2 separate regions of the Homo sapiens genome follow, and region 1 is linked to region 2. The links come from fine-mapping of genetic effects on gene expression. A gene starts in region 2. The other region holds a variant in brackets. All regions are shown on one strand. Distances are between the middles of the regions. Region 1 overlaps GLIS1 (GLIS family zinc finger 1). Region 2 holds the start of GLIS1 (GLIS family zinc finger 1).

Evidence for each region. PIP is the estimated chance that this variant, and not a neighbour inherited with it, causes the effect. A credible set is the group of variants that fine-mapping cannot tell apart.
Region 1: its variant is the best candidate, but not a certain one, in a credible set for the expression of GLIS1 in cerebellar hemisphere (GTEx, PIP 0.82).

The regions. Positions count from the first base shown.
Region 1 is chr1:53,531,584-53,540,129 of GRCh38, reverse strand. The region is part of intron 4 of GLIS1 (GLIS family zinc finger 1); the gene reads left to right. Among named protein-coding and RNA genes, the nearest start is that of DMRTB1, 76 kb to the right of the region's middle. RefSeq lists an enhancer at 1-736. The variant A/G (reference allele first, on the strand shown) is at 3,983.
Region 2 is chr1:53,735,163-53,744,969 of GRCh38, reverse strand. It overlaps GLIS1 (GLIS family zinc finger 1), which reads left to right and starts at 5,806. Exons shown (of 11, transcript NM_001367484.1): 1 at 5,806-5,865; 2 at 6,864-7,164. The coding sequence starts at 6,906. RefSeq lists silencers at 5,457-5,806, 5,817-5,986 and an enhancer at 5,672-6,390.

The DNA.
Region 1 (8,546 bases), 200 kb after region 2:
GTGATGCTTGAATGGTAGGAGAGTGGTAAGGGACCGGCAGTCCTGGCCGCAGCATCGGGATGACAGTGAGAGAACTGGGAAGGCCTCAGGCTTGAGCCAAGCCTAGAGTGACAAGGAGGACTGGCCAGTGAACAGGGGCACCTTGAGCAGAGGACACCGCATGGGCAAAGGCGTGGAGGCGGCAATGTGTGGCCTGTGGCTGCAGCGTGGGGAGGGAAGTAGACATTGGGCTAGAGAGGTCAGTGGAGATCTCTCAGGCTATGCATGCTGTCCCCAAGGCCAGGCCAGGCCAGCCACCACTCAGAGGTCAGGAGGCGCAGTGGACCCAGCCCCTCAGTGAACCCCACACGCACATCCATGTTCCAGGTGGCCAGTTTCCACGTGTGCTGTGCTATGCGTGGGGCAGTGTGTCGGTGTGGCTGGTGGGTGGGGGTTAGTGTGTTTGTGAATGTGGCAGGTCTGGGGCTTGGACGTCTTTGGGTATATGTGTGAACATGTGTGTCCTGGCCTGTGTGTTTTTGTGATATGAGTCATGGGGTGTAAACACAGTTTATGTGTATGATGTGTAGTGTGTGTGGGGGGGTGTATACCGTGTGGTATGTGTGTGTGTGGTGTGGTGTGTGTATGTTGGGGGTGTGGTACGTGTGTGTGGGAGGTATGATGTGTATGTATTGGGGGTGTGCTGTGATGTGTGGTATGGTGTGTGTGTGGGGTGTGCATTCATGTGCTGTGGAGTGTGTGTGTGGTATGATATGTGTGGGTGTGTTATGTGGTATATATGTGGGGATATGGTATGTGTGGGTGAATTGGGGTGTGTGTGTTTAGGTGTAGTGTGTGTGTGTGTGTGTGAGGGAGTTTCTGGGTCTTGGTGTGTGTGTGTGTGTGAATCCATGTGTGTGTGTTGGTGTGTGTTGGGGCTGTCTCCGACGTGTGGCTTGGTTGGAGGGAGAGGTGTTCACATCAGAGTGTGTGAGTGTCCACGTTTCTGGGCCTGTGGCTGGTGGCTTGGTGTACATGTGTCAGCCATTCTATGCTGTGTGCTCTCTGCGGAGCCCTGGCCCCTGGCAGAGCCTCTTTCCTCATTCCAGACGATGTCTAGCCACAGCTCTGCACTGGGAGAGCCCCTGGATCCCACCTGTCCACTTGGGCCCAAGAGAAGCTGACTCAGCCCCTCCTGCACCTCCTACTTTCGGGGGTTCCACATGCCCTGGAAGGGTGACTCTCTTGATCCTTGCTGGCCGGCCACCTTTCCAGGAGATGCCTCAACTGCACTGCTGGGGACAGGAACCCATTTCTTGCCCAGACAGGAACTTTTGCCAGAGAAGAGCCCAGCCCAGAGCTGTCAGTGTGTTCCTGGTGAGGAAGGGTCAGGGTGTCTGCAGCCCCCACCCCCTCAGCCTTGAGATCCTCCTCCCAAGGACAGGCCCACCCGCATGGGCTCCCAGAGGAGGTGTATGGTCCCTCTGTCCTGTTCTCCCTTGCCTCACTGTGTGCCCCCAGCCCTCCCTGGCCTGCCAGCTGCTTATGAAGGCCCAGTGAGCAGATGGTCTTGCCTCTCATGGCAGTGCTCGATCATGGCTACCTGGGACCAGAGTGTGCCCAGGGCACAGACCTCGGCACTGGAGGTGAACCCAGGCTCCATCCCATGAGTGAGCGCTGGGACTCTGGCACTTCACCTAAACTCAGTTTCCACCTCTGTAACAATAGGGGTTGCAGGATTAGTGAGATGGTGTTTAGGGAGAGCTTGGCCCAGTCCTAGGCACATGGTCAATGTGATAGCTGCTGTTCTGCTCAGTCCCCGCACATGCCCCACTTTCCATTCATGTATGCAGGTGGCACTGCATCCCCAAACACCAGACCCTCGAGAGCCTCACGGTCCAAATCAAAGAGCCCGGGTCAGTGCCCTCCAGCCTCACCCCCAGGACCCTCCTCCCGTCTGTCCGTTCCATTCTTGCCTCAACCTCCCCACAGAGGACTGGCGAAGCCCCAAACTCTGAGGAGACCCTCAAGGAGCCCCACGGGGGAGCACAGGACAGTAACCTCAGGCCAGCCAGCGGCCCCTCCCAGAGTGCAGGAGCGAGGAGCGGCCCTCAGTGCCCAGCTTGCTGGCCTTTAAAGCTGGCCAAACGCAGGATTATTTGACATGTTGGAGAAGGAGCTGGCATTGCATTTCTCCCATCCACATCATTGTTGTAAAGTAACTTAAAAGTTCGTACAAAAATGAGAAGTTGATCCCTGAATGGCCTGCCAGACTTTTGTAACCCAATATATTTTACCCTTAAACCAGAAATGTGTTTATTTAGAAGCAAGTCACTGGCAAATGCTAAAACTGAAGGCATTTCCTCCCCTGCCCCCGTGCCATGCCCTGTTCCCCCAAACCTCCTCTTCACTCTGTGTCCAGATTCTTAGTTAGAGCATGAGAAACTGAACCCTGCCTCCTTTTTGGGCCATGCCAGCCGCAGGCAGGAAACTTGACATTCATTAGGCACCAGCTATGTGCCAGTTCCTACACTGGGCATATTCTTTTATTTACTTCTACCAGCCGTTTGTGGTGGCCCCATTTTAGAGAAGAGAAAAACGAGGACAGAAATGAGGCGTGACTAGCCCAGGTTCAGGCTCCCGGTGGTGGATCCCCAGCACAAACCTCTGTTTGCGTGACTTGATTTGCAGCACTTTGGTTTGCGGCATGGTGTCACCAACTCACATGTGAAACAGGGCCCTTGGTTCTTCCCCAGGAGCCAGAGGGAGAGAAGAGCCATCACCTAGTGCCAGCGGCACGCCAGGCACTGTGCTGGGGCTCCCCTGCATGCTCTTAGCCCGTCCACAGATGCATAAAAGGCTCTGAGTGTGGCTTGCTGAGGAAGGTGGACCCACCCTGCAACTTGAACGTCTGAGCCAGCCCCCAGCGGATCTTGGGCTTCAGCCCTCCCCCTCCCCAAGCCAGAGCTTGAGGGGTCCCTGGGCTTGGCCCAGAGGCGAGGATGCCACCCCCTGCCTGGCTCCTGGGATGGCTCCCCTCTGTCTTTCATCTCCTGCCCTCTGCTCTGTGAGCGGCACGCAGCAGTAATGGATTGCAGTGGACATTTTTCAATTAGGTTCTGATTTTCCCCTGCCTGTCACTATAAAACTCCAGATGGTCTGGGGCTTCACGGTTCCCGGGGTATTTTCCCCGTTTTTTTAATCTTCTGCTGTAACACACCCCACATGTGGGAATTGGGCCTTTCAAGGCTGTTCTGTGGATCAGCTGGTACTTTCTTCTCCACTGTGCCACCTGGTTTTCCTTTCTGCATGGAGGCATCCACTGTGGGCATCCTCCCTTCCCAGCGTCAGCTCTGGGGCTGGGCCCAGGCCTGGCCTTGCCCCAGGAATGGAACCTGTGACGCCTGGTTTGAAATGACAGTACTAGCTCCTGAGAGAGAACTTGTCTTTTGGTGCTTTAGGTAGGAGTCCCTGAGGCAGTGGCCAGAGTGGTTAGGGACACATATAGACTCATCAGCCAGACCCAAGGTCAGATTCCTGCTCCGTCACTGACTGGCTGTGTGACCTGGAGCCAGTGACATCACCCTTCTGAGCCTCAGTTTCTTATTCTGCAGAGTGGGCTGGGAAGTAGCTTCCTCAGCGGGGAACGTTGTCTGAATTAAATGAAACACACACAGCACTTGGCCTACGGTAGGTGTCAGAGAAAGTGTCACCCAGTCACTACTGTCATTCTGAATTCACCCCAACTTCATCTTCAAATATGTTTTACTGTTTGTGTATTTTGGGGTAAATAAGAAAAACCTAACCACCTATTCTTACATTTTTCAAGATTGTTATACATGCCTGCTTTTCCTTCTCCCCATCCTGGGTACCCCCTGCCCTCAGTATCACCTTCTCTGTTCCCATGGTGTGGGAGCCCTTCCTTCTAGCCAGATCAGTCTGTTGTGTTTTTGGTTATTTGAGCCAGTGTGTCTCAAATCCACCCTCGACAGAAGGTGCCTGT[A/G]TCATTCTCTGCATGGACAGATGGCGTCAGAGCGCTGATGCCTCTGCACACAGTGGTTCACAGAGCCCCCACAGTGTGCCCCTTCTTACATCTGAGGTATCTGGTCTCTGACAAGTGAAATGAGCTCACCCTGATTCATCGGGTCGGGAAGCGTGGAGGCCAGCTTTGCACCCAGGCTGATCTGAAGCTGGAATGCATTGGTGTGGGTACGGGGGTTGGAGGGTACAGATGCCACCAAGCCAGCACCAAGGGACCAGATCATGCTGGCCAGAATGCCAGGGTGAGGATCTGTACATGTTGAGGCACTGGGGAACCATGCAGGGTTTGAGCAGGGAGGGACACAGAGCTATGGGCTTAAGTCTTCTTTTCAGATAGCTCGTGGAAATGGGTTGGGAAAGGCAGGAGGGAGGCAGGATGGCACCTGTGCAGTCACCCAGGTAAGTGATGCTGGGGTGTGGATTAGGGCAGTGGGTGGATAAGAAGAGAAGGGGGCAGACCTGGAAGGTGATTACAAGGTGGCATTTCCTGGGCTGGTGACTAGTTGGATGCAGGGCCCAGAGAGGAGGGAACATGTTCCTGGCTCAAGCATCCAGGTAGAAGGTGGGAGGTCAGGGGCCCCATACCCACCCAGCCATCCACCATGAGGGACTGAGAGGCCCCAAGGTGGGCTGGCCATGTGCCAGCAACTCAGGGCCATATGTGCTTGAGGCTTAGGGGCCCATGTCGCACCCTCCTGCACCGGTCCAGCCCAGTGCCTGGACTCACGGTAGGTGCTTAGTAAAGGTAGATGGAAGAAACAGTGACAGCTCAGACCCAGGGCATCAGCCCTGCGTGACCTGGGGTGGTCCAGCCAGCAGAAGTCGCACCAGAGTCCCTCAAGTGAAGAGCCTGTGCCACATCAGTCCTTGCATGGAGTGGCTTCTGTGAAGTCTTTAGAATCAAAAATCCCCAAATTTGCCTGCTGCAGAAGGAACCACTACCCCATGTGTTTGAATGAAGGGAGCCCCCAAAACTCCCATTTCTACTTTCACCTCTCCTCTCCCTGCTTCCCTTCCTTCTCTGCTCAATAGATCCTTAGCTGTTTCCAGAACATATCCCACCTCTTCCAGCCTCCCTGCTTTTGTTCATGCTTTGCCCTCTCCCTGGAATGCTTTTCCTGGCTCTGTGTTTCTAGCCCCTGCCTGGGTGTCAGGGCTGAGCTCCTCTGTGAAGGCTTTTGTAGCTCCCCAGCCTCTGCCAGCCAGAAGCCCCCGGGTCAGCCCCTTCCTAGGGCTCTGAACAAGTTCCAGTGTGTTTGGAGCTATGGGTCTTTGACGCCCTTGGGTCTCAGCTCAGAGCACACTGCCAGGCACACAGAGGGGCAGCTGAGTGAGGCAGGAGGATAAGAACCTGTGTGCTCAAAGAGGAGAGGATGAGTGAGTGACTCGCAGAAGTGCGTGAGTGGAAGGATGGGGGGTGCACAGTAGCAGGGATGGGGTGGGTGGTCAGGTGGGGGTGGAGGGATGGGGTGCACAGCTGGCTTTCAGGCCACAGGGCTTACCTTGTGTTGCAGGCACTTCTTTCTCAGGAGAGATGGCAGTTCTGCCTATGGCATAGCTCAGGCTCAGTGCCCCTGGCACAGGGGGAACAATCTCCCTCTCTGAACCCCCCACATAGAGGCACTCAGCCCTTGCAGTGGGGGTCCAGGGTCTGCTCTGCCAGCCTGTACCCTTGGACACTGGCAGCAGGAAGCAGGTGTCTGTCCAGGACAAATGTACCATAGAGCCTGAGGCGACCGGGATGTCAGGAAGGCCCCGCCCCAGTGGCACTCCCTGTGGTGCAGGCCCCATGGAATCATTACGATGCCCTCGGGTCGTGGTGCCATTACCTGAAGGTAAGTCCTCCCTCCACCTGAGAAACCAAGGTCGAAGCCAGGGACGTGCTAGATGGCTGCATTTCTGGTCTCACAAGCCCCATGCATCCATTCTGCAGCATCTGTGCCCCCACAACCCAATGGTGGGGGTTCCCTCCCTGCAGCCCTCCCAGCCCTACACAGCCTATGGATGGGGGCCCTTCAAGCCACACCCACCCCAAAGGCTACCTCGCACTCATTGGAGGCTGCTCCCGGGACCCAGAGAGCTCCCCCTGGGCTGGGTCTACACCAGGGTCCGTGTGTGTAACCCCTGTGCTGGCTGCACCCTGAGCATCAGCTCCCCATCTGTCAGTGGAGACAGTAATACTTGCCTACTGGGCAGTGAAGAAGATAAGGTGCCACATTTGTGACAGCACCAGGCCCAGCAGAACCAAGCACACAATAGGTGCTGAACTGATGGTCGCTCTCATCCCTCTTTCTGTGCCTCTGTTGTCCCCATCTGTGCAGTTGTTGACTAGGAAGGACCACAGGGACCTTGGCAGCCAGCTGCAGGCAGATCCCATAGGCCCTCAAGGCCCCTGGCGTGTCTGGGATGCTGGTCCTGATGGGGCATGACTCTGGCTCTGCCAGGGGTGCCTGCAGCATCCTCATCCCAGACCAGTCCTGATGGGGCAGTGCCCCTTCGTCTGCTGGTACCTCTGTTTCCACCTGGAGGGACGGGCCACTCTCATCAGGGCATCCCAGCCAGCTGCTCATTATACCCCAGCCTGTGGCTCAGCTCTGGAAAGTTCCAGGGGGCGGGGAGCAGAACAAGGCTGGGCCAACATACATGGGCACAGCACAGGCATCAGGGCACACGCACTTATCGGGGTACCTTTCTGCACACTGGGGTAAGGGGGTGTACTCACAGGGGTGCGTGGACTGCATGCCCAGCAACCCCCATATCATGCTTCTGTCCCACCCTTTGCCCCATGATTGAGATGCCAGCCCTGCTCTCAAGGAACTCTCAAACTCTCAGCCTGGAGGCATGGGGAGAAGGCCATGGCTGTGCAGGGAAAACCTACCCCACAAGCTCATGGGTGTCACAGAGGATGGGGTGGGGAAGTTTGAGGCAGGCTTCTGAGAGAGAGTGCTTAAGCAACAGGAGTAGATGTTTGCTAAAAGAGCAAATAAAGGAAAGGCATTCCAGGCCTAGGGAACAACTGAAGTAAAGGCCTGAGGGCATGGAAATTCCTAACAGAATTCAGGACTGTTCAGACACAGTCTCACTCCTGCAGATCACGCGTGGAGCGTCTGCATGGGAGAGGCAGTTGGGTCCATGTTGGAAGACCATGAACACCAAGCTGCAGATCCTGTGTTTGAAAAACGTATGAATTAGATGGTCAGAGAGTTGGAAGGGAAGGAGTCCCAGGAGGGGGACAGTCCGAATAGAGACAGAGCAACTGTGCTGAGCAGAGGGTTGGCCAAGGCAGGAATACACAGACCTCGGGGAGAAGATGATGTATCGATCATGGTCCACCTTCCAGCACTCTCCCACAGTCAGGAAAATGACGAAGCCTGGAGGAGTTATTGTCCTCTGCTGTAGATACCTCCCTGCCCTGCATGGGCCAGAGGGGAACAAAGGATGCTGAGAGGAAGCCCCACTCTCCAGCCCGGGCTCCCCCATCTCACGTTGGGGTGAACTTGGCACAAGGCCATTGCAGGCGAGCAAGGGAGGTGGCTTGCAGCCTATTTACTGCCCAAACAGGATTTCCTCCTGGTTTGGATGCATGAAAAAGGCACAACATCTGGAAGTAGGAAGCAGAACAGCTTCTAAAACCCAGCTGTGGGTGGCTCGCCTTGGACCCGCCCCAGCAGAGCACGGCCCCAAGTTGTGACTGGGCTTCCAGGGGACAGGCGCAGAGGGAGCTGTCCCGGAACCATCATTGTCTCTCGTGTCTCTTGTGTCTCTCATATCTGTCTGAGCAGCTCTGCCCTGGCCTGTGCTCCATCTGCCACCTCTGCCCTGGATGGGGCGTTGGTGACCCTCCTCTGGAACTGCTACAATTGCCATCTTCCTGTCTCCTCCCCCGGTCCCCACTTGTCACCAGCAGCCAGAGAGGTCTTCCTAGGGCACATATCTGAGCCTGTCCTTTCCCTTCTTTAGGAGAAGTGTCTCCACTTTCCCCAAGGTGGAGTCCAGGCTCACTGGCCCAGCATTTGAGTCCCCGCTATCTGGCCTTTGAGCTCCCTGCAGACTCCTTGCCCAGTAGAGCCCAGCCCACCCCCAGCGTAATGAACCCCACATCAACCACTCAGGGGCCTTCACAGGGAATCTGTGCCTTTTTCATGCTTTGGTGCCTGCCCTTCCTTGGCCTTCAGTGTGCGTCACCCCACTATCTTCTTTGGATCTGTTGGTTGCAGTTCAGGGCTCGGGCAGGGCCAGAGACAGAATGAGGTGAATGCATCAGTGTTGGGGGAATTGCCTGCCTGTGTCTCCACACTGCTACATGTCTGTCTAAGCTCGCTACAGTCATCAAGCCCGTGGAAGCAGCTCGCGGCCCACAGGCTGCCTCAGGCATCTCCTCTGTGTGGCCACAGCCCCTGTGTCTCCCTCTGTGACATCTCAACCACGTCGCTTTATGGTGGTGTGCGTGTGTGCATCTCCCACATGGGCTCTCTACACCTAGAGGGCAGGACCCATGTCTGAGTTCTCTCTGCAGCTTGGCACTC
Region 2 (9,807 bases):
CCTGAGTTCAGGAGTTTGAAACCAGCAGGGCCAACATGGTGAAACCCCATCTCTACTAAAAAATACAAAGTGGCTGAACCATTTTACATTTCCACCAGCAATGTTTGAGGGTTCCTATTTCTCCACATCCTCACCAACACTCATTTTTTTTTATGATTCCTCATCATTCAACTTGAGACATTCCTTTTATTCAGTTATATCATCCTATTGGATGTGAAGTGATATTTTATTGTGTTTTGTTTTTATTTATTTAAAAAATTTAAAAAAATTTTTGGAGATAGGGTCTCACTATGTTGCCCAGGCTAGAGTGCAGTGGCTATTCACAGACGTGATCATCAGCACTGCAGTCTCGAACTCCTGGCCTCAAGCAATCTTCCTACCTCAGCTTCTCTAGTAGCTCATTCTGGTTATGATTTGCATTTTCCTAATGGCTAATAATGTTGAGCATCTTTTCATGTGCTTGGCCACTTGTATATCTTCTTTGAAGAAATGTCTATTCAACTCCTGTGCCTATTTTTTCGTTGGGTTGTGTTTTTGTTTTTGAGTCGTGTGAGTTCTTTGTATATTCTGGAGGCTAGACCCTTATCAGATATATGATTTGCCTATATTTTCTCCCGTTCTGTAGGTTGTCTCTTCAGTATTTTGATAATGTTCTTTGGTGTACAAAAGTTTTAAATTTTGATGAAGCCTAATTTATTTTTTATTTTATTGCTCATGTTTTTGGTATTGTATCAAAGATCCAGACTGGTGTGGTGGCTCATGACTGTAATCCCAGCACTTTGAGAGGCCAAGATGGGAAGATCACTTGAGCCCAGGATATATGACCAGCCTGGGCAATATAGTGAGACTTTGTCTCTACAAAAAATTTAAAAACTTAGCTGAGCATGGTTGCACACACCTGTTGTCCCACCTACTTGAGAGTGTGTGGTCCCACCTACTTGAGAGGCTGAGGTGGGAGGATCCCTTGAACTCAGGAGGTTGAGACTGCAGTGAGCCCAGATTGCACCATTGTGTTGTAGCAGAGTGAGACTCTGTCAAAAAAAAAAAAAAAAAAAATCCACTGCCAAATCCAAGATCAAGAAGATTTACTCCTAAAAATTATTTTTTAAAAAGGTGTGTACCTCTGTGTTTTCTTCTAAGCATTTCATGGTTTTAGCTCTTACATTTAGGTCATTGGTCCATTGTGAATTACTTTTTGAATATGATGTGAGATGGGATCCAACTTCATTCTTTGGCAGGTGGATATCCAGTTGTCCCAATACCATTTGTTGAAGAGACAATTCTTTCCTCAGTGAGTGGTCTTGGCACTCTTATTGAAAATCAGTTGGCCATAGATGTATGGGAGGCAGAGACGCTCTTGACTGTGGGAACTTTGGGAGGTCACTTAATTTTGAACTTTTATCTTCTCACCTGTAAAATAGGGATGATAACCTCTTTATCCAGAGTTGTCAGGATTAAGTGAGGTCACATATGGAGAGTGTCAGCCATGGTACATGGTAGGTTCCCCATGTTAATTCTTCCCTTGCTGCAAGACACAGAGGCAGGGTAAGCAGTGTAACATCGATCACCTCTCTTCCTTCTCCTTCCTCCTATCTCCTGGACACAGGACACCTTAGACACAGAAATGTCTACTTTTACCTCAACCATTTGCTGAGTGAATGCTTACACCCCTGAACAAAGACAGTGAGGAGAGACGTCTTGATAGGGTGGGGAAGCTCTTAGCTAGAAATGTAGGCAAGCAAATGAATTAGTGGTGAGTCTTTAATAATTCAATCAGCATTCAGTAAATATTTACCTACTTTGTGCAGGAATCTCTTCTAGGTTCTGAAGATAGAAAGGCAAAAAGCTGCCCCTGACCTCACAGAGGTCTCATTCTAGAGGGGGGAGACAGGCTGTTACACAGGCAGTTACAAAACTGTAATAAGTTCTCAGATAGAATAAAGCAGAGGATTGTGAAAGTGTGCAGGGAGAAAATAGCTATAGCCCCCTCGAGGATTCAGGGAAGGCTTGTGGGAAGGTGACACTTGGGCTGGGTATGAAATGATTCATAGGAAGAAGTAGGCAAGGTGAATAAGGGGAGAAAATATTAGCATAGGAGAAATCATATACAGAGCTATGAAGGCATGAATATATGTTCCGGATTCTAGGAGATGAAAACTATTCCAAGGTGCTTGGAACATAGGGTAGGGGTGGGAGCAGGGTAAGAAAATGGTTTGATTTTATTTAGATGGCCATTGGGAGCTATGAGATTTAAACAGGGAAGTGCCATGGTCAGATCTATATTTTTATTTATTTATTTATTTACTTATTTATTTAGAGACAGGGTCTCTCTCTGTCACTTAGCCTGGAGTATGGTGGTATGATCATAGCTCACTGCAGTCTCAAACTCCTAGACTCAAGGGATCCTCCACCTCAGCTTCTTGATTAGCTGATAGTATAGGTGCAGGCCACCATGCCTGACTATTTTTTATTTTATTTTTTGTAGAGACAAGGTCTTGCTATGCTGCCCAGTCTGGTCTCCAATTCCTGGCCTCAAGTGATCCTCCTGTCTTGGCCTCCCAAAGTACTGTGATTACAAGTGGGAGCCACTGTGCCCGGCCAGATCTATACTTTAGAGACTGATAAGGAGACCAGTGTGGAAAATCACTAATTAGGAGAAGGATGAGGATGGAGGCAAAAAGAACTTGGAAGAAATGTAGTAGTGAGGATGGAGAGGAGGAGGATTGTTAGTTAAATTTATGACAAGTCAGATATAGGAGTATGGGAGAGGAGGGGCTGAGGATGACTCAGATTTCTGAACTGGGGGAGTTGGCCATAGGGCCATTCACCCAGTTAGGGACATAGGAGTGAGGAGCAACGTCAGAGATGAAAAAATGATGTTCGATTTTGCAGATGGATCCTGATAGAGATATCCAGTAGACAGACTGTGGGAGGGCAGAAGAGAGTGTGAGTTGTAACACGGGTTAGTGTAAAAAGCAGACATTACTGTCTAGCCTGCTAAAGTGAGAAGCAGGTTACTGTGTTTCACTTTATTTTGTTTTTGACAATTAAAATATTAAGGAGTTTTATTTTAATACCAAAAATATAAAGGAAAAAAATGCAGCACATAATCCCACTGCTCAAATAACCCCTATTGAAAGACAGGGAGGGGCCGGGCACAGTGGTTCATGCCTGTAATCCCAGCACTTTGGGAGGCCAAGGTGGGCGGATCACAAGGTCAGGAGTTCGAGACCAGCCTGGCCAATATGGTGAAACCTTGTCTACTAAAAATACGAAAATTAGTCAGGCATGGTGGTGCGCGCCTGTAGTCCCAGCTGCTCTGGAGGCTAAGGCAGAAGAATCACTTGAGTCTGGGAGGCAGAGGTTGCCGTGAGCTGGGATTGTGCCACTGGACTCCAGCCTGGGCAGACAGAGGAGTGAGACTCTGTCTCAAAAAAGAAAAAGAAAACAAAAAAAAAAAAAAAAGAGAGAGAGAGGGAGGATAATATATACTTAGAAAACACAAATCAGTTCAGACAAGTATAAAAATGAAAAGTGCAGGCCTTCCCTCAGTCCTCCATTCCCTTAACCACTGTTAACAGTTTCTTGTGTTTCCTTTGTGGAAAAAAAAAAAAGCATATACCTACTAGATTCTGAGTATCTCCAAAGGGGTTCTGCCATTTACAGTGTTTAAGAGGTCTGTTTTATTGAGCAGATTAAACTTCTCATCACTTTGCCAGCCTTCACAAACCCACCTATTTTGGTCAGGTGGACCTGTGAGCTCACTGAGGGGAAGGGGAGGGGGCGGGTTCTGTGTTTCTGTGTCCCTAGCTCAGGTATAGGGGCTGGCCCAGGGTAAGTGCTCAAAAGAATAATGGAAAGAGCTGTTTCTTCATCTGGAAATTTGGAGGGCCTTTGCTTTCAGGTCCAGTTGGTTAAATGACTCATTCAGCAAACGTTTTCAGAGTCCCGACTAAATGTGCAGCGCAGTGCTTGTTGTGTGTGTGTGTGTTTTGCAGCGGGGCGGCGGGGGGGGGCATTGTGGGGGGTGGAGGGAGGGCAGAGGACTTGGATCCTGGCCTTACTGAAGAGAAGAGCAGAACTAGAAAGGCCAGAGATCTTCCAACTTCATGCCTTTGGAGGGGGGAAGCTGAGGTCCAGAGTGAGGTTACCATTCGTCTAGAGCCACATGGCTTGTTGGCAGCAGAACCAGCTGTGACTCCACAAGAGTATGTGGTGGTGGGGGGTGCAGGCACTGAGTGAGGCGCAACCCTTGGCCTGTGTGTTATGGGCATGGTTGATTTACACCCTCTCCCTGTGAGCAGCAGAGTGGTTGGTACTGAAGGAACAGCATTGCCAGGAGTCAGGAAGCCTGGATCCCGGGGCTCTGCCACCCTCCACCACATTGACACAGGCCAGTCACGTCCTTTCTCCTCTGAATGGAGGGTGGGTCTAACTAAAACCTCAAAGTCTTTCTTACTATTATTACTCTAATTGTTAGATACTATTTTAAACAAATTATAGGAAATCCAATTTTATGATTTTGAAATTCTAAAATCCTGGTTTTCCAGGATTCTGAGGATGCTGCTTGGGGTCGGTTGTTCTGTGCAGAGTCCTGTGCTATGAACTTGACATGTTGTGTAGTCCAGAAGGGCTCCATATACATTTTCCAGTTTGAGACCAAGGTCAAAGAGACCAGACTTCAAAGGAGTTCGAAACCAGTCAGGCCCCTTGGAGCCAGCCCAGACCACCATCAAACAGTGCACAGGAGGCGCCTAGGTGAAATGCAGAAACCATTTCAGGGCTTGGCTGGATCCTTCGGTAGGCATGGCAGGTAGACCAGGCCTAGGCAAACACTGCCATTTTACACGGGAGGACTCAGGCTCAGAGCGGGGAACTGAGCCATTGCCTGCAGGCTCTGTGAAGCCTTACTGTTCTTTGTCCCGTGCTCTTCCTACACGTTGGGCAGGGCCCCCTGAGACACTGCGTGCTGTCTGTGGGGGAATCCCAGAAGGCAGGACAACAGAGTAGACCCCTAGAGTGGGTCTCAATCCCCAGATCTGTAAGGATCTCCTGGGAGCTCGCTAAAAGCCTAAGTGCTGGGGGCCTATTCCCCAAGACTCAATTGGAATATTTCCTAGTTGGGATCAGGCACCATTTTTTTATCTTTAACTTCAGAGTTTGAGACCTTTTACCCTGGACTCTTTCCGGCGGAAAACACAAAAACAAACGTAAGAAAGTGGGCTGAGAGGCCTGGGTTTGGGTCCCAAATTTGCTGCCCACTAGCTGTGAAATCTCTGCAAATTCTCCAGTGAGAGGGTTGGATTCTGCAAGAAAACTTTTCAAGCACTTTCGCATCTGTCCGCTTCGCGTTAGCAGACAGCGTCGTTCCCATCTGACGGAGGGGAAAACCGACCGGGAGAAGGGAGGATCCTGCCCGGGGCTAGTGGAGAGGCGGGCAGGGAGCCGGGTTCAGCCCGGCACTCCTCACGCCCAGCGCACTCCGCCGACCCCCGAGCCCAGCCTCTCTCGCCGCGGCGCCGCCCCGCCGTCCTGCCCGGCTCGGCCGTCTGAGAACAGCGGGCAGCGCGGGGATCCAGCCGGCCGCCGCCTGTCAAACCCTCTGCTCAGCCCCGCGTCGGGCCCCGCCCAGACCCCCAGGGGGGGATGCCCCGCCCTCGCGCCGCGATTGGCCTGAGCCGGGCGGCCGCGGCCAGCCAGTGGCTGGAGCGGCTGTTGGGCAGACGCGGGCCCGCCCCCGTCCCCCGGGGAACCGCCCCGCAGGACGCGGCGGCGGCGGCGGCGGCTGCGGCGGCTGCGGGGGCTGCTGCGCCAGTGGAGGCGCGCCGAGCCGGGCGCCCAGCGATCTGCAGCTGCCGCTGCGAGGTGAGAGGGGGCGCGGCCCGCGGCCGAGGGAGGGGCGTGTGCGGGGCCCGAGATCCGAGGCTGGCGTCCCGGCGACGCTCGAACCCCGGCAGCTTGGGGATGGCGCAGGGAGCGCGGAGGGGAACGGAGAGTTTGGGGGCCCCTGATGGAAGGGCTGAGGGAGGCTCTGTCGCGGCCCCCATCGCACGCGCGTGTGGCGAGAGCGTGGGACTGTGTGGTTGTGCGCTGCTGAGCGTCTGACCAGCGGCAGTGTGGGTGGCGTGTCCGTCCCCGGGCGTGCCTCGGCGGGTGTGCGGGTGTGTGGCGGCGGCCGCGTGGGCATTGCCCACTGTGCCGGTTTGCGCGCGCGACGGGCTCGATTCCTCCGCTGCGCATAGGAATGTGGGTGTCCCGGCTGCGCGTGATGGGTTCGCGTCGCAGGATTCAGCGCCCAGCTTGGGACTCCTGTTTTCCAGGTTCGGGTGGTCGCGGGTGAGTCTCTGGGGGTTTCCCTCGGGCCTTTGGGTTCGGGTCCCCAGCTTCTGCGCGCAGCTCGGCCCCGGAGAGTCGACGAAGCGCGCAGCCCGTGACCTACCCGGAGCCGTCTCCGGGGCTTCGCCCGAGCCCTGCTCTGGGAATCCTCGTTGCCGCCGGCTCCGTGTTCCACTGGGGGACGCGGAACAGGCGCCTTACCCGCTCCAGGCCTCAGTTTCACCATTCGTGCAAAGGAGGCTGGTTTCGGTGGAGGAGGATTTGGGTGGGACTTCGCGGTAATGCGCCGCGGCGCGGGGGCCTGGGGTCCTCCCCACACCAGGGAAGGGCGAACCGCTCCTGAGCGAGGGGGCTTTTGCGTGGAATCAGGTGGGTTTGACCTCTGATTGGGCTAGGTGTCGTGGTGCTAACCTATGTTAAAGACGCGCAATCCACCGAAGGGGCAGTGACCTGCTCAAACTCGGCCCCGGGACAATACGGGGGCCGCTTTCCGCATTCTAACTGGCTGTGCTGTCTCCCCTCCCCAGGAGCCCGGCGCGACCCCCAGCCGTGCGCCCCGCCCCGGCGCCATGCATTGCGAGGTGGCTGAGGCACACTCGGACAAGAGGCCTAAGGAGGCCCCTGGTGCGCCCGGCCCCGACCGCGGCCCCGCCAGCCTCGGCGCGCACATGGCCTTCAGGGTCACCGTGAGTGGCGGCGGCTGCGGGGACAGGGGCCCGCGGGACCTGCTAGCCCGGCCGCCTGCGCCGCCACCGCGCGCCCACGACCTCCTCCGGCCCCGCAGTCCCCGAGACTACGGTCCATCCAAGGCCGCCGCCGCCGGGAAGGGTGAGTTCGGCCCTGCCAACGTGCCTGGCGGCTCCTGTGGAGATTCGGGCTGCCCGGCGTCGCCACCGCGTGCTCGGGAGAGCTTGGTGGAACTTTCTTCGGAGTTCCTCAGTTTCTCTCTTATTGTTTGGGACTAGCTTGTCAGTGTGAAAGTATGCCTGCTTTGCGAAGCATCTAATTTAAATTCAATTAGCCCCGTTTGGGGAAATGTGTTTATAGAAAGCTCTCAGCTTACATAATTTTGCTTCTGTGTGTTTCTGATAAAGCTTGCATAGAAACTTGTCAAAATTTTATTATACATGAGGGCGAATAGCAACGCATATATTGGTATCTGTTTCTGAGCAGCTCAAGGCATAGTTTGAAGTATTTCAATCTCCTCAGCTGACAAAACCCAGAGGCCTTTAGCAAGACCCCTCTCCTTTTGGGACCTCAGTTTCCCCATCTGTCAAGTGAGGAATTAATTAAACCAGATGATTTCTGGATTCCTGATGGAAAATTTTCTGCATCAGCAATCCAGCCTAGTCACGTCCTAACTTAAACATGGCTTTTCTGTACTTGGTGCTTCGGCAGCCTAGTCTTGGGTCACAAGCTCCTTGGCAAGTCCCTTCGTCCCCCAGTGAAGCTGGCCACGGGAAGGTGGGGGTCCCAGTATGGCTTATGGGCTCAAAGTCGGAGATGGTGCTGGGATTTTCAGGAACATGCTCTTCTCATCACAGTTAATTATTATTGAGTCATTATTTATGAGTTTCGTGCTGACAGATAATTAACCAGGAATTGGAGAAATTGTTAAGATGCTGTGTCCTCGTCCTCCCCCCTTTTTTTTTCCCTTAGGGGAAACCAAGGCTTTGGGGTTTGACTATATCTGCATTTGGAACCTCTTGGTTCTCATTCCAGATGATTCTCAAGGAAGACAAAAACAGTTTGGGTTTTACGGTTATAGGCATCACTTCCTAGCATCAGCCTCACAACTCGGAAGGGGTAGGCAGCCTACTTTTAGAGTTGAGAGCTCCTTGTGGATCAAAAACACCCAACTCCCTGGTTCAGGGATTAGTAAAATGAAATAAACATAAGTAGTTTTTTTCTTTTTTGAAGAAAACACTTGACTTTGTAAGAGAGAACTACTTCTCATCTCCTTGTTTTAGATGCCAGCCTCTTTTTCAAGGGATAGAGATAATATTTTAGAAGGACAGATACAGTGGGGAGGGGCGGGAAATGCCTGCTGAGTGTTATTGCTGGAATACACACATATGAGGTCTCTTTTACCAGAGAGGAGCGCTGCGCAGCGAGACATGAGTAATGTTTGCTGCCGGGAGCTCCCTGGCTTGCCCCGCTCCATACACAATCCTCCCTTAAATAGATACCCTCCTGCAACGTTCTGTGTTTAAAAAAATCATGGCTGTCCTCTGAAGATCGAGTTCTCTGCAGACCTAGCAAACAGCTCTCCCGAACATAATCTTTGTTCCACGCTATGGTGAGACCTTTCACCTGGGGGCTTTGTGTACGATCTTCCTACTTCCATTCCCCCTAACCCCAGTTATTTTTACGCACGCCCCCAAACATGTCCAAAATAAAAGATCTTTAAGTCAGGATTCCATTTGGAAAGGGCAGAGGAGAATAAAGGGATGGGAGGAAGAGCCTCTTTCTTTGTACCTTAAGCTGGTCTCTCTGGTGAAGCTTTTTTCCAAGAGGTTTCACAACTTTTCTTCATAGCCTCCCAGTGAGGCTGTTGTGGTGGGATGTATCCCACTCATTTGAAGGGTGAGGAAACTGAGGCCTGAAGGTGGGAAAGTGTTTGGTATGTGTAGGGCAGTGGTTAGGGAAGCCACAGCTCTGGCCTAACCTGGCCTAGGGAGAAAGGGAAGGCTCAGGGTCCTGGGCTTGGAGAGGTTTCCCTGCTGGCCTCTGTGTTGCTATAGGCAAGCTTTTCCTCACAGTGCAGTCACCAAGTGGCCCGAGACAAACCCAGCTTTCCCCCAGTTCTTCAGCGTCCTTAAAAATGCTGCGAGGAAACGGCACCTTCTTACTGCCCCTACTCCCACCGAAATAGTCCCAGACCATGTAACCCTTTGAATATTTGGTGTCTAGCTCCAAGTTCTCAGGCTTATTGGAAACAGACAGAAATACCAATTGAAAAATATGTATTGACTGTGCTGGGAATTGTGAGACCCCACCATCTATGATCTGTGGCACTTGGGGGAATCGATTTTACTCTTCTGAGCCTTTGGTTCCTTCGTTTGTAAATTTACCCTGAGACTTAATTCGCAAGACTGATGAGATCATTAGTGATAAAGAATGTGCAAGGGCCACCTCAGTGCCTGGTTATTTTTAGGATTACTACTGTAACCTGTTTCACATTCTCAACCTCTGGGTTTTCATTTGCGTGAGAGGTAATGGTGCCTACCTTGCAGGGTAAATAAAACAAGAGTTGTAAGAATGCCTTATAAGCTAAAAAGGTAGAAGGAGGCACTTTTATTAATTCGTGCAGGGCCCATGCAAGGGTCAGTGACACTTGAGATAAAGGGGACAGAGTGAGAAGGAAGCAAGGTTACATTTTTAAAATGCTGAATGTGAAGGGTGCTAACTGTGGTGTGCTAGCCAGGGGAGGCTGAGAGGTGCCAAGCTTCAGGTCTTTTGTGGCCACAG